Regions from separate parts of the Homo sapiens genome. Here region 2 is linked to region 1. A link means that fine-mapping ties the variant in region 1 to the expression of a gene that starts in the linked region. Tissue or cell type: whole blood. Region 1 holds a variant in brackets; the other region holds the start of a gene. All regions are shown on one strand. Distances are between the middles of the regions.

What was found. PIP is the estimated chance that this variant, and not a neighbour inherited with it, causes the effect.
Region 2: it holds the start of PITPNC1, and the variant in region 1 is fine-mapped to the expression of PITPNC1 in whole blood (TOPMed, PIP above 0.99).

Annotation. Positions count from the first base shown.
Region 1 is chr17:67,464,380-67,472,483 of GRCh38, forward strand. The region is part of intron 1 of PITPNC1 (phosphatidylinositol transfer protein cytoplasmic 1); the gene reads left to right. It overlaps MIR548D2 (microRNA 548d-2), which reads right to left and starts at 7,206; the gene lies at 7,110-7,206. MIR548AA2 (microRNA 548aa-2) reads left to right here and starts at 7,110; the gene lies at 7,110-7,206. The variant C/T (reference allele first, on the strand shown) is at 4,953.
Region 2 is chr17:67,372,624-67,380,727 of GRCh38, forward strand. PITPNC1 (phosphatidylinositol transfer protein cytoplasmic 1) reads left to right here and starts at 4,658. Exons shown (of 9, transcript NM_012417.4): 1 at 4,658-5,579. The coding sequence starts at 5,532. RefSeq lists silencers at 2,222-2,301, 4,543-4,662, 4,713-4,962, 5,313-5,732, 5,743-6,042 and 1 more and an enhancer at 4,464-5,157.

The DNA.
Region 1 (8,104 bases):
AGAACGTCCTGCTGTTCATGATGGACTTCATCTATATTTCAATGAATTTCTAAATGGAGGAAACAGAACATTTTTCCTTTGATTAATTCATTGGTTTTCAGTCCTCAAGGACCCATAGGCTGGCGAACTCTAAGAGGAAGTCACAAAAGGAAGAATGGTAAATTGGAATTGGAACTGTGGAACTCACCCCGTAAAAATCTTTCAACACTGTCCTGAGTTCAACATCTGAAATACAGTGGACCAGGAGAAGATTGATGGAAGCTAATTTAAAAAGCTAATTTAAAATTGCACCAAAAAAAGCACAGCGTTATGAATTTAATAAAGTTCGTAGGGTGTTTTGGACCACGATTTTACAACTCTCTCACTTTTTTTTTTTTTGAGACAGAGTCTCACTCTGTCACCCAGGCTGGAGTGCAGTGGTGCAATCTCCTCTCACCGCAATGTCTGCCTCTCGGGTCCAAGCAATTCTCCTGTCTCAGCCTCCTGAGTAGCTGGGACTACAGGCATGCACCACCAGGCCTGATTGATTTTTGAATTTTATTAGAGATGGGGTTTCACTATGTTGGCCAGGCAGGTCTCAAACTCCTGACCTCAGGTGATCCACCCGCCTTGGTCTCCCAAAGTGCTGGGATTACAGGCGTGAGCCACCACACCCGGCCACAACTCTCACTTTTAATTGACTGTGCCCCAGAATCAAGCACTTTGGCTAGCAAATGATGGCTAGTTAGATCACAGAGGTGTGTGTTGCATTCTGTGTCTGTTCACTGTGAAATCGGGATTTTAAGAGTGTATGTTGTTGAACATACACCTGTCTTTGAGTGATCGGTCCCCAGAGGCCACCTCTAAGGTGAAGATTTGGGGAGGTAATTGTGGGAAGCCCCAGGAGGAGCAGAGGAAAATGAGAAAGGGGACGAAGGGAATGTAATAGAATGTGTGTTGGGAGAGGGTTTCCTTATGAGCCAGTGCAGAGGAAAGTCTTGAAATGCACTAAGGAAATACAGTCTGTGCCGTGATGGTAGCACCGATGTGGAATCCCATAAGCAGCTGCTTGAAAAAGACTTGGTGGCAGACATAACTCTTTTTGCCTTTTAAGTGCTCCGGGAGATTTCACATGCCAATGTTGAATTGTCCCCAACTTGGGTTCAGGGTGCCCAGGAACTAGCAAAATCAGCTTTTTTGTGGTAGGATCTTCATAGGATCCAGGAGCTGTCACCCACGAATGACAGAGCCCCTGCACTGGATAGCCTTTCTCCAATCTGTATAAGGTGGAATAGGGAAATGAGGCTCCTCTCTGATGTTCGGGGCTTTAGCTGGGCTGGGTTCTGAGTCCTCTGTGCCTAGTTCCCCTTGGGAAGCACTGGAGACCTTGAACTGGAAATTCTCTTCCTGGGATCAACCAAATACTCCCAAAACTTCGTGGAAGCTTAGCTCCTTGTGCCTTTTGTCAGGTTTCCCTAGAAGTCAAGGGATTCTCATGGAGATGATGTATGGGATGGGGGCTAGAGGGCTGGGAGGATGGTAGGGCGGGGGTAAATCTAAACTTCAGGTGTCTTGGGAGTCCATGACTTGCATCACAGAGCTGGTTTCCCCCCCGTCAGGCAAGGTCGGCCTTTATTTATTTATTTATTTATTTATTTTAGAGACAGAGTCTCCCTCTGTCACCCAGGCTAGAGTGCAGTGGTGCCATCATAGTTCACTGCAGCCTTGAACTTCTGGGCTCCAGCGATCCCCCTACCTTAGCCTCCTGAGTAGCTGGGACTACAGGCACACGCCCAAATGCATAACTAATTTTTAAAGTTTCTGTAGAGATGGTGGGGTGGGGGGGTGGGGGGGGGCGCGTCTCACGATGTTGTCCAGTCTGGTCTCAAACTCCTGGCCTCAATTGATCCTACTGTCTTGACCTCCCAAAGCACTGGAATTTACAGGTGTGAGCCACTGGGCTGGCCAAAGTCAGCCTTTTGTACCCCTCTCAATGTCAGCCATTGATTGGTTGTGGGCCTCCCACAGGTGGAGAGGTTCCCATTTGTTCAAACGCAATTTACAAACAAGGGGGCAGATGGGACCCATTAGTAGCTGAAACTCACAGCAACCAGTGCCTAGTAAAGGATTCATGCAGGGCCCTCCCACACGACCCAAAACAGCAAAGAGAAAGGGCCAGGTGTTGGCCTTTTTCTAACTCATCCCTTTTAACACAGTAAGTTCAGCAGTCCTCTAAGAGTCCCACTTCAAAGTACCCCTCTTGCCTTCCGAATTCAGTGTTGTTAGCCCTTTTGCTTGAAAAACCCCCACTCTTGGACACAGAGGAAATAGGAGTCAGATGTCTGCACCTTCTGCACCTGTGGTTTGAACAGGACCCTCTGGGAGTCGCAGGAGGAGTGCTTGGCCCTGGTGCTTGGCAGGAGGTTGGGCTGGGAGATGATGATTGCCTTGATCCTCTCTTTCAACTACTTCATTCCAACTGTTGGAATACCTCAGTAGTGAGTATTAATTTTCTTCCCCCCCAAATCCAGCAAGCAATCTAGCTCCTTAAGAGAAGACTATGTTCCTGCTATTAACAGGGCTTTGACTGTTTTTGCAAAATAATAACTGGGCATTCTTGTGTTAAGGACCATTTGTTTCCTTCACCTGCTTTTCTTCCCAATTTAGCTGAAAAGGGACCTGAGCCAGTTAGGAGATTTTTTTTTTTTTTTTTTTTTTTGAGATGAATCTTGCTCTGTCACCCAGGCTGGAGTGCAGTGACATGATCTCGGCTCACTCTCAGGTTCAAGTGATTCTCCTGCCTCAGCCTCCCAAGTAGCTGGGATTACAGGTGTGCACCACCATTCTTGGCTATTTTTTGTGTGTGTGTGTTTTTAGTAGAGATGGGGTTTCACCATGTTGGCCAGGCTGGTCTCGAACTCCTGACCTCAGGTGATCCACCCGCCTCAGCCTCCCAATGTGTTGGGATTACAGGCATGAGCCACTGTGCCCCGCTGGAGACTTTTTTTTTCTGAACTAAAATATCTTTTCAGATACAAGGTTCAGGGAGGGTGGTGTGGACCAGTGAGAGAAGTTTCATTTGCACCTTTTTCATTTTTATTCTGATCCAGAGTGACTGGAGTATTAATGGATGTTGTCATAGGCTTTTGAAGTGGCCTTGCTTGGTGATTGAGTGGCTCTCGCAAAATTCTGAATTTTGGAACCAGGTATTGCTTTCTAGCTATACTAACATGTCCCTTTAGGAGTCTAATGAGATCTGCTTTGCCTCTGCCCCAAACAGATTTGCTTTACAAGTTACTGTCACTCAGGGCAAGCTCCAAGCTCTGTATCTAAAAAGCAAAGCCACCTGCCAGCCACAACCAGGTGCATGTTGCCTTTGGGCCTTGTGTCAAAATATCTTCATCATCTAAGAATAAAACCCCCAAAGAGGTCAGCCTGATCTTGTAGAAAGCCGTCCCTGGGAAAATGATTAAATGTCAGTAAACAAGAGCATTTCAGAAACTGACATGGTCCCTAATGTTTGTGTTTAGAGACTCCTAATGTGTCAGAATTGAGTTGGAGACTTACGATGTAATTGCATGTCTTGTATTTCATGCCAGCCTCTCGGCTTGGTGCTGGGGCAGAGTGGGAAGCAGACCACAGAGCAGAGAGGGCCTCTGCCCTTTTATTGTCCTGTGAGAGAGATGGATATTCACAAATAATCCTGTCCCTAATTAATTGCAGCTGAGATAACCATTATAAAAGAAACTAGAGAGTGTGACAAGGGGTGACTATCTCTTGGTCTTGGTTGTCAGGCAATGCTATGGAAGGGTTATTTAGAGTCGTAGAAGTGTCTAGTACAACCACCAGCTGATGAAGATAGTACAGGAGGAAGCAGGCATGTTTGAGACATGGTGAGTTTCAGGCTCAATTAAGGAGCTGGAGATAGCTACCAGCTGTTAGCAACACTGGGGGCGTGCAGGAGCAGCATCAGGGACAGATTTGGGAGTCCCTTGGGGAAGCCGTGGTGAAGCCACAGGAATGAACAGGTGGCTTTCTTTCCTTTTTTTTTTTTTTTTTTTGAGATGGAGTCTCACTCTGCCGCCCAGGCTGGAGTGCAGTGGCATGATCTCGGCTCACTGCAAGCTCTGCCTCCCAGGTTCTGGCCATTCTCCTGCCTCAGCCTCCCGAGTAGCTGGGACTACTGGTGCCCACCACCACGCCCAGCTAAATTTTTTTGTAGTTTTAGTAGAGACGGGGTTTCACCGTGTTAGCCAGGAGGGTCTCGATCTCCTGACCTCGTGATCCGCCCACCTCAGCCTCCCAAAGTGCTGGGATTACAGGTGTGAACCACCGTGCCTGGCCGCTTTTTTTTTTGAGACGGAGTCTTGTTCTGTTGCCCAGGCTGGAGTGCAGTGGCACTATCTCGGCTCACTGCAACCTCTGCCTCCCAGGTTCAAGCGATTCTCCTGCCTCCACCTCCCAGGTTCAAGCGATTCTCCTGCCTCAGCCTCCCAAGTAGCTGGGATCACAGGCACCCACCACCACGCCTGGCTAATTTTTGTATTTTTAGTAGAGACGAGGTTTCGCCATGTTGGCCAGGCTGGTCTCAAACTCCTGACCTCAGGTGATTCGCCTGCCTCGGCCTCCCAAAGTGTTGCAATTACAGGAGTCAGCCACTGCGCCTGGCCCAGGTGACTTTCTTGAGAGAGTATGGAGAGGGATCTGGGAGAATGTCTGGATGAAACCTTCTTTAAGGGCCTGTCACCTACATGCAATAAAGACCATACTAATTGTAATAAGACCATTGTTTACTTTTTGTTCCCCAACTGGTGCAATTTTCCCAGTCCCTGTAGTAGCCCCAGGATGGCTCAGAAACTGTCTGGGTTCCTGCTGTAGACACTGTGAGAACTTCCTTTCCAAGTGTAGCCAAGCACCCGCCCCACTGCTGCAGCCTGTGCCATCCTCCCCCTTCTCTGCACACATTGCATATC[C/T]CTGTGGTCTCCGTTTTGAGCTCAGAGTGTGGGCCTCCAACCCTCAGCACCGTATCACTCCGTAGCTTATTAGAAATGCAGAATCTGCAGCCCCCGCCCAGCTTGCTGAATCAGCCTCTGTGTTTTAACAAGATCCCCGGGATCTGTCTGCCTGTTGACAAGGGAGAAGCCTGGTCTCGGTTACCTCCTCCTCAGCGTCCTGAGCCTGGCTGGATCGCCAGCACACTCAGACCAGCGGCCCCAGGCTCTTGTGACAGCAGCCGTCAGACCCGTGGGAGTTCAGGTGCGGGTCATCAGGGCCCTGCTGGCTACTCCACCTCTCTGGGTCCCTCAGCTCAGAGATTCCACTTGAGTGTAGAGAGAATTGTTCCCCTCTGCTCTGGTGCCCTCTTTGCACTAATGTTTAGGGACCTAGAAAGGGCATCAGGAAATAAGACAGAACAAAAGCCACCAAGAGGAAGAAGGAAATTCAAGTGCCATAGCTATAGAGAGGCTCAGGAGGATAAAAACAAAGCAATAGCAGGGGCTGAGAGATTTTTTAAAAATCAGCTTTACTGTGATATATAATATATATATGTGTGTGTATATGTATATATATAATTTTTTTTTGAGACAGAATCTTGTTTTGTCATCCAGGCTGGAGTGCAGTTGTGCAATCTCAGCTCACTGTAACCTCCGCCTCCTGGGTTCAAGCGATTCTCCTGCCTCAGCCTCCCAAGTAGCCAGGATTATAGGCACACACCACCACACTTGGCTAATTTATGTATTTTTAGTAGAGATGGGGTTTCACCATGTCGGCCAGGCTGTTTTCAAGCTCCTGACCTCGAGTGATCTGCCCACTTTGGCCTCCCAAAATGCTGGGATTACAGGCATGAGCCACCACACCTGGCCATATTGTGATATAGCTAACATAGAATAGAACTCACTTTAAGTGTACAGCTTGATGAGTTTTAACATATATATACACACACTGTAGTCATGTAACCACTGCCCCATCAAGATACAGAACATTTCATCACCCCTAGAACTTCCCTTGTGACTTTTAGCTGTCAATTACTTCTCTCTACCCCCCACATTCCCCACTCCTGTTCCTAACAAGCACTGATCTGCTTTTGCACTAAAGTCTTGCCTTTCTTAAAGTTTCCTATAGATGCAGTCATACAGATGTAGTCTCTTGTGTCTCACTTCTTTTGCTCAACACAATGTTTTTGAAATTCATCCATATTCCCCGTCCGGGAGGGAGGTGGGGGGGGTCAGCCCCCCTGCCCGGCCAGCCGCCCCGTCCGGGAGGTGAGGGGCACCTCTGCCCGGCCGCCCCTACTGGGAAGTGAGGAGCCCCTCTGCCCGGCCACCACCCCGTCTGGGAGGTGTACCCAACAGCTCATTGAGAACAGGCCAGGATGACAATGGCGGCTTTGTGGAATAGAAAGGCGGGAAAGGTGGGGAAAAGATTGAGAAATCGGATGGTTGCCGTGTCTGTGTAGAAAGAAGTAGACATGGGAGACTTTTCATTTTGTTCTGCACTAAGAAAAATTCCTCTGCCTTGGGATCCTGTTGATCTGTGACCTTACCCCCAACCCTGTGCTCTCTGAAACATGTGCTGTGTCCACTCAGGGTTAAATGGATTAAGGGCGGTGCAAGATGTGCTTTGTTAAACAGATGCTTGAAGGCAGCATGCTCGTTAAGAGTCATCACCAATCCCTAATCTCAAGTAATCAGGGACACAAACACTGCGGAAGGCCGCAGGGTCCTCTGCCTAGGAAAACCAGAGACCTTTGTTCACTTGTTTATCTGCTGACCTTCCCTCCACTATTGTCCCATGACCCTGCCAAATCCCCCTCTGTGAGAAACACCCAAGAATTATCAATAAAAAAATAAATTAAAAAAAAAATGTAAAAAAAAAAAATGTAAAAAAAAAAAAAAAAGAAATTCATCCATATTATTGGATGTATCAATAGTTTGTTCCTTTTTATTGCATAGTAGCATTCCCCTGAATGGATATACCACAGTCTGTTTATTCATTTACCAGTTGATGGACATTTGGGTTACTTCCAGTTTTGGATGATTTTGAGTAAAGTTGCAATGAACATTCACATACAAGTCCTTGTGTGGACCTACGTCTTCATTTGAGAGATTTTTTTCCTTTTAAACTTTTTATTTTATTAGGTTGGTGCAAAAGAAACTGTGGTTTTTGCCATTACTTTCAATGGCAAAAACCACAATTACTTTTGCACCAACCTAAATCTTCCCTCTCTCTGGATTTGCAATTATTCTGTAAATCTAAAGTTAACTTTAGCTAAATCAGGTTGACATCATATACCCCCTAAAGTTAACTTTAGATTTACAGAAGAGTTGCAAATCCAGAGAACCCCCCGTAGTCTTCATCCACCTTCCCCCAATGTTAATATCGTACTAATTATGATACATTTATCAAAACTCAAAAATTAACATGGGCACAGTTGTATTAACTAAACTCCCGACTTTCTTCAGATTTCACCAGTTTTTTCCACTAATGTCCTTTTTCTGTTCCAGGATTTAATCAGGATATAATGTTGCACTTAATTATTATATCATAATAGTCACTTTCAATCTATGTCAATTTCTCTGTCTCTCCTTGTTTTTTTATGACTTTGACATTTATGAAGTGGGCTGGTCAAGTATTTTGTAGGATGTCCCTCAATCTGGATTTGTCTGATGTTTTCTGATCATTAGACTGCAGTTGGGGTTTGGGGAAAGAATACCCCAGAGGTGAAATGGCCTTCTCATCACATAATATTAGGGGGCACATGATATCTACCTGATTGCTCACTGGTGAAGTTAACCTTGATCACTTGGTTAAGGCGTTGTCTACCAGAGTTACCCACCGTAAGCTGCTAATTTCCCTTTCCATACTCTGTTCCAGGGGTGTCCAATCTTTTGGCTGCCCTGGGACACATTGGAAGAAGAATTGTCTTGGGCAACACATAAAATACATCATTAACACTATGACAGCTGTTGAGCTAAAAAAAAAAAAAAAAAAAAAAAAAAAAAAAAGGACCGGGTGCGGTGGCTCACACCTGTAATCCCAACACTTTGGGAGGCCGAGGCGGGTGGGTCACGAGGTCAGGAGATCGAGACCATCCTGGCTAACACAGTGAAACCCCATCTCTACT
Region 2 (8,104 bases), 92 kb before region 1:
GGTCTCGAACTCCTGACCTCAAGTGATCTGCCTGCCTTGGCCTCCCAAAGTGCTGGGATTACAGGTGTGAGCCACCGCACTGGCCAATTTATTGCTATCTTACTTATTTAAAAAAGAAACTATACCTTTGGCCACAGAACCTCCAGTTTTTTTTCTATGTGAAGCAATTTGTAACACATCATTGTCAATTCACTTTTATTTTATGGGCATTTACTGCAAAAATACAAGCAATTCCACATCAAAGACATTGTCTATATTTAACAGAGGCCTGATAGATGGGTGGGTCTATACATAAGAATTGCCTTGGGACTTCCTCTGTGTCATTAAGAAAGAATTTAACATTAGCTTAGTAACCAAACAAGATCAAATATACAGGTATTTAAACACAAACACACACACAAACACTTAGCCTTTGTTGGAATTAAGCAAGTAATATTTAATAAAACAAAAATTAATTGTAGGCTGGGCACAGTGGTTCACACTATACCCAGCACTTTGGGAGGCCAAGGTAGTTGGATCGCTTGAGCTCAAAAGTTTCAGACCAGCCTGGATAACATGGCAGAATGCCATCTCTACAAAAGAAATACAAAAATTGCCTGGCATGGTGGCATGTGCCTGTAGTCCCGGCTACTTGGGAGGCTGAGGCCAGAAGATCACTTGAACCTGGGAGGTGGAGGTTGCAGTGAGCTGATATCATGCTGCTCCACAGAAGCCTGGGTGACAGAGTGAGACCCTGTCTCAAAAAAAAAAAAAAGAAAAAAAATGCAAGAATAACATTTGATTTTTAAAATGTTATAAAAAAGAGGCCATGTTGGCCGGGCACCGTGGGTCACGCCTGTAATCCCAGCACTCTGGGAGGCCGAGGCGGGTGGATCACCTGAGGTCAGGAGTTCGCGACCAGCTGGCCAACACGGTGAAACCCCGTCTCTACTAAAAATACAAATAATTAGCCGGGCGTGGTGGCGGATGCCTGTAATCCCAGCTACTTGGGAGGCTGAGGCAGGAGAATCGCATAAACCTGGGAGGCGTAGGTTGCAGTGAGCTGAGATCAAGCCATTGCACTCTAGCCTGGGTGACAGAGCAAGACTCCGGCTCAAAAAAAAAAAAACCAAAAAACAAAAAACAAAAAGAGGCCATGTCAAAAGCACATAGGAGCCAACCAGAAAGAGCTCCCAACAGCCAATGCTGGAACTGTCTGAGCAGCAAAATAAATAACATAATGTTGATTATAACTTGAAGTATAGAATAAATAAGCACAAATCCACACAGATATATATATATATATATATATATATATATATATATATATATTTGAATAAATATATATAGAGAAGGGACAAATCTTTTTTTTTTTTTTTTGAGATGGAGTCTTGTTCTGTCACCCAGGCTGGAGTGCAGTGGCATGATTTCGGCTCACTGCAACCTCCGCCTCCCAGATTCAAGCAATTCTCCTGCCTCAGCCTCCCAAGTAGCTGGGACTACAGGCGCGAGCCACCACGCCTAGCTACTTTTTGTATTTTTAGTAGAGACGGGGTTTCACCATATTGGCGAGGGTGGTCTCGAACTTCTGATCTCAAGTGATTCGCCCACTTCGGCCTCCCAAAGTGTTGGGATTACAGGCGTGAGCCACCATGCCCGGCCTTCATTTTTTAATCGTCAGAAATTCCTGTTAGTACACTTTTCTTTCAGAGGCTGTTTACAGAGGTGGGTCAAGACCTTATTAGTTTTTTCACACAGACATGGAGGATTAAAGAGATCATCAGAATGCCTCGAAGAGAATAGGTTGACAGTCTTCTTAGATTATCTTGGTGTGCCATACCCCCTCCTGCGTTTTGAGAACCCCTGCTTTCAGAGACTGTCACTTATCTGAGAACAGATGCTGTCACAGACATGCACAGCCTCATATTCTTTTCCTCTTTGTCTTATCATTCCTCTCTGGTAACTTTACTGTTTTGTTCCTCTTTTTGCCTTTTGTGTCCCACCCCCATTTAAAAAAATGTGATGATCAGCCACGGCAGATTGTACATTGTTAATGGAACATCATGACTGTCCATAATGATGATAGCAACAGCTTCAAGGCTCTTCGTAAGTAGATATTGCGACTTCATTGGTTGAGAAGAAACAAAGATACAATTCTTGCCAGACACTTGCTGAGGACAGGACTTAAAACCACAGTGCTTGGCCAGTAGATGGCGCGCCCCGCCCTCAGTGTGCATGACTTATGAATGAATATGCCCTCCCTATGCCCTGCACCAGCCCCTCCCGCCTCTGCTAGCCCCTCCAGCTCACTGCTATCAGAACCACTGTCTGAAGCGCAGATTGCCAAGGCCTGGCTTTAAAATGGTGTCATGGGGATTGAATTGGGGAGAGGGATTCTCTGTGAAGGCAACGGGTTGAACAGCAGAAGGGTTGAGCTAGAAAGGTGGCCGGGGAGGAGGGGCTTTTGCAGCCAACTGACTCGTCTCATTTGGCTGGAGTTGGGCTGGGAAGGGTAATGGACTAATGTGGGAAAGGTAGATCCAGAGCCTTGAACCTCCTACCAAAGCATTTTGACTTGCTCAGTAGGCCATAGAGAAGCCCTAAAAGGTTTTTATATATTTTTAAATTTTAGAGACAGGGTTTCAGCATGTTTCCCAGGCTGGTCTTGAACTCCTGGGCTCATGCGATCGGCCCACCTCCCCTCCCAAAGTGCTGGGATTACAGGGGTGAGCCACCGAGCCCAGCCAGGAATCACTAAAAGGTTTGAAGGTGGCAGGATGAGAGCTGTACTTGCACAAGATTAATATGACCAGGTTTGCGGATGCAATGAATGAAAAGAAAATGAGAATCCAATGGAGAAGTCACCTTACAACAGGAGGGGTGGGCTGGGCGCGGTGGCTCACACCTGTAATCCCAGCACTTTGGGAGGCCGAGGCCATCACCTGAGCTCAGGAGTTTGAGACCAGCCTGACCAACATGGTGAAACTCCATCTCTACTAAAAATACAAAATTAGCCAGGCGTGGTGGCCGGTGCCTGTAATCCCAGCTACTCCAGAGGCTGAGGCAGAAGACTTGCTTGAACCCGGGAGGTGGAGGTTGCAGTGAGCCGAGATCATGCCATTGCACTCCAGCCTGGGCAACAAGAGCGAAACTCCATCACAAACCAATAACAGCAACAAGACGGATGATGGAGGAAGCATATATGTGACAATTTACAGTTCGGGAAATTCAGAGAAGTAGCTCCTCAACAGTGTCACCCGTCAGTAGAATACTTCCTTCCAGAATCAGTGTCAGGAAATGTCCAGGAAGCCAGGAACTGAGCCTACACATCCCGATGTCCCAAGTGCATGCGCATGTGTGGCTAGCCAATCCCTTGCCTTCCTGCCTCTGGGAAGATTATTAGGTCTTCCATTTGTTTTCAAGTAAGAAGCAAAAAAAAAAAAAAAAAAAGGAAAAACAGCTTGAGTTTCTTTCCATATCACAGCCTTCCAATGTGTTATTATTCAACACTGCAGTGTCAGATTTAGATTTTCCACCTCGAGGAATTTGGTTTAGCTTTAATTAGTTGCTGTGAATATTTCTGAGCCAACTCTGGAAAGCATTTATCTGGAAAATAGTTTCCACTAAAATATAAGCTGGATATAGGGTATCATTTTCCTAGGAGGGTTTGTATCAGTTAACAGTTATAAATTCTCTCCAGCCCTCTGGATGACTTTTGCCACAAGCCCATCATCGTCATATTGGTTAATTACTTATTAATTAAACACAATTCAAAATACTGTATTGAGGCATCTGCATCGCCATCTAAGCTCTAGCTTCAGGACTTCAGAGCGTGAAGATTTTTCGGAGAAAAGATAACGCTTACAGGTTATTCTCATACAGGCAACTGATGCATTTTTCATCCGGCAACTTTTCATAAAAACAAGCTGAAAAATACCAGACAAATGAAAAACAGACTTCAGCAGTTCCATGCTGCTTCCTGAGTAACTGAAGAATGTGCTTCTTGTGGTTAAAATGAGAGATCTGTTTAATATGGATCAAATAGCAACACTCCAGGCATTTTCATTGACATTTCACTGTGACTTTTTGAACTTAGGAGTGCGGATACGAAAACCTACTCTTTCTTTCTGCTGCGCGGAGCCTGCACAATCTGCAGAAAGATTGCAGAGCCGGGCCAGGCGAGGTAACAGGCTACGTGGGGTTCATGTTCTCTCTGGTTGTTCCCTCCCCGTTTGTACTTCATTTCCATTCACACGGCTGCACTTCCCAGTTTTCCAGGATCTCTCCTCTGAAACCAGGCAAGGGTTTGTTCCCAAATCCCACCCATTGCCTCTCCAGCCCCAGACTTGCTTACTGGACCACACATAGGTGGTGGGCATTGGTGACTTGTCCCTAGGGTCAGGGGACCAGAAACTTCCCAGAGGGGCTGGATGGAGCACGGCAGCACTCAGGGCACAATGGAGAGCGGATTCAAAGGGCAAAGGAGCCGAGGAAAGCCCCTCTGCCCGAGCCTCCCCAGCGCCGGCCGGGCTCCGCTCCGGAGCAGCCCCGCCGTCTGGCAGAGACATGCTGTTTTGTTTAAATCCTCCACATTCTTTGCCATTTCCCCATTGGCCGGATGGGGCTACCCTCCCCGCCGCGGCCGCTGCTGATGTCAGCCTCGCTCGCGCTCGCTCCTCCCGCACCCACCTCCCGGCCCCAGGCACACTGCATCGGCGCGGACGCTCCGGCCCCGGCGAGGTGGCTGCAAACTCGCGGGCACGCACGGCGCCCGGGGAGCCGAGGGACTCGGGGGAGGGGACGCGCGCGGAAGGCGCCAGCTTCCTCCCGCCCGCCCCTGGCAGCCGCGAGCCGAGGTTGGAGGCGCCCGGGGCCCCAGCCGGGCAGAGCCGAGCGGCGGCGGCGGCGGCGGCTTCCCTTTTCTCCCCGAGCCGAGCCCCGGAGCGGCGCGGGGACCGGCCCTAAAAAGAGCAGGAAATCTTGTTTACCGCCCGCGGAGAGAAGCCGATCGAGCCTTTGTCTGGAAAGTCAGCATCTCCGGCTCCGGCTGCAATGTGTTCCTGGTGACATTAGCATCGGGCAGACCCGCCGGAGGAGGGGGGTCGCCAGGTTCCCGTCTGCTTTCGGAGGCGGATCGAGCGGGTGACTTTTGTGCATTCGTTTTAATTTTTGGAAATCTCTCTTTTTTCCTCCCTCGCTCGCTGCCGGGCATGTCCTGATCTGGCGGCCGCTCCTACCACCCTGGGCAGCCGAGCAGAGTCGTCCCCAGCGGGTCTCCCTCCCTGCCTCCCTGACTTTGCAACACCGCGTTCCGGGAGGACCGGCCTCGGCGAGGGAGGAGGCGGGGGAGCTGCGAACACCCAGACCCAAACCCTGACATGCTCTGGGGCGGAGAGGAGGAAGCCAGGAGCTGAGCGCGCCGCGGGGGCTGCTTCGCCCTCCGGCTCCGAGCGCCGGGCTCCGGGCGCCCTGCCCTGCGCCTGGGCAGCAGCCTTGCTGGTCTTGGGGGCGCCCCCCGCTTCCCGCCCCGGGGGTCCGCGGCCGGCAGGACCATGCTGCTGAAAGAGTACCGGATCTGCATGCCGCTCACCGTAGACGAGGTAAGCGCCGCGCCCGGCCCGGCCTCGCCCGCTCCGGGACCCCCGCCGCTACCGCCGCCTCCTGGCCGGCGAGCCCCGGGCGAGCGGCAGGAAACCCAGGTGGACGTTACCCCGCAAACCCGAAGCCTGGAGGAGAGGAGGGAGGGGATTTGCGGCTTCCACTTGTCACCCCAGCGGGGGAGGGCGGCGCTGGGTGGGGCGGCGGACTCCGGGTGGGCTTTTCGGGGGCGCCCAGAATCCAGACTGTTGGGGATCACTATGAGCCAAAGGGAGTGGGTGCGCCCCCTCCCTCCAAATAAGAAAATGAATAAACCAAACCCAAGAGCCCCCGGCGCGCGCTGTAGCTGGGGTTTGGGGGGCATCCCGTCCTGGCCGTGGGCCCAGCCTCCCCTCCCCGCCCTCTGCGGTCAGGTAGGGGTGCGAGGAGGAGCCCTGCGCCCTCGGGATCTGCACGCCCCGAGCCCCGCGGGAGGAACCTCTGAGCCCTTAGGGGAGGTCCCTGCGGGGCCCGACTTCTCGCCGTCGCCGCGGGCTTGGGCGCAGCTCCCGGCACGTCCGCCCTTCGAGGCTCGGGACCCGGCTGTGTCCTTTCGCAAACCGCCTGGCTCGGAAACTTTCTGCGTCTCTTGTTTCTTCCGCCGCGGGGAGCGGCGCGCGAGCCGGGAGCGGCGGGGGCTGCGACGCGGCCACAGGAGGGCGCTCCAGCACGTGGTGCCGGGGCCGCGGCTGCCGGCTGGGGGCGCCGGGCGCGGGGCGGGGGCTCGTCCTCCAAGCGCGGCTCTGCTGTCCTTCTCCCGATCCTGCGAAGCCGCGAGCTCCAGTATTCAGGAAGTGGTGACTCAGATAGGATTATTCCGGCCCCGGCTTCCCTTTCTTCCCCTTCTTCCTCCCCACCTTTGTGGTGATTCCACGACTGCTGAGCGTCTCTGTCCAGGGACAGCGAGGGAGCCCAAAGCCAAGCAAGGCAACGTGAAACTCACTAGTGTGGTTTGGTGTGGCAACACACATGAAATCAGCCACCCAGACCGTCTTTATATTTAAATCTGGTGCCTCGAAACTATCAGATATGTTTTTGAGCCACTACTTGGTGAGAGGGGCGATGTGCTTTGGGAGAGAAAAAGATGCATAACTGAGAACATGGCTGAGCTCACAGGGGCTGTCCGTATTTGCCATCTGGACCAAGGGTTAAGGTAAGACCCAAGTACAATCCAAGACAAGATCAAAGTAGCTGCAAGTTTACAAAACGCATCACGGGGACACAGGCTGCCAAGGAGGGAGAGATCAGCTTCCACCAGAATGAACAACCGAGTTTTGGAGTTCGTTGGCATTTGAGGAGGTAGCATTTAAGCAGGGTCTGGAAGGGTGGATGCCAGGTGGGTAGACAGAGATTCGAGTTGCATATGACCTTGTAAGTGGAGAAGCAGGACATAGCTTTGTGGAGAAAGAGAAGGGCAAATGAATGGGACTGGTTAATAGGAGTCTTTCCAGAAAAGGTGGAGATTGTCCCACCTTGTGGGCAGTTGAGCTAGAGTAATTCAGCTGGGAGGCATGGATCCCTCTACTCCATATCCTAATGACCTTGTTTTTTGATATGAGTTTGGATTCTAGGAGCAATGTTGGGACTGCATGAAATACACAGAAAATTGCAGGTGATAATCAAGAAAAGAACCAGTTCTAGAATCTTCTCTACTAACTACAAAATCTCTTTATCCTAGTTGGTTCCCTTTTCAGGCTTTCTGAAACACTCAGGCAGATGCTTTTCCCACTTTTGTTTTTGTACCGAAATACCCACAGGTATACCGTGGGGTAATTACATTTGAATGATATAGGTGGAGGCCCTTCCTTCCTTCCTTCCTTTTTTTTGTCTTTTCTTTTCTTTTTTTTTTTTTTGAGATGGAGCCTTGTTATGTTGCCCAGGGTGGGGCGCAATGGCGAGATCTCGGCTCACTGCAACCTCCGCCACCTGGATTCAAGCAATTCTCCTGCCTCAGCCTCCTGAGTAGCTGAGATTACAGGTGCCTGCCACCACGTCTGGCTAATTTTTGTATTTTTAGTAGAGACGGGGTTTCACCATGTTGGCCAGGCTGGTCTTGAATGCCTGACCTCAGGCAATCCGCCTGCCTCAGCCTCCCAAAGTGCTGGGATTACAGGCATGAGCCACTGCGCCCAGCCAGCCCTTCCTTTCTTAATTGGCCAACAAAATCAGACTCATCAGACTCCACCTGTAATATAATTATAAATTCTTTAATGTATAATTCATTTTGGCCAAAGTATGATTCAGTTTCTGTAAGGTTCATATTCTGAAGTCATTTTCGGCTTTGTCAGAGAAGCAGGAGGGCAATTTAGATTAATAGATGTTTCCAATTAGTAGGATTCAGATTAGCTAAATCTGATGATGGATGAAGAAATGAGGCCTAGTTTGCCAGATGTTAAACCCCTAGAGTCAGAACTGATAGTAAATTCCACAGTCTCCACCATCCCCTTTTCCACTGACCCTTTTTCCACATTGAAAATGAGGAAGCAAC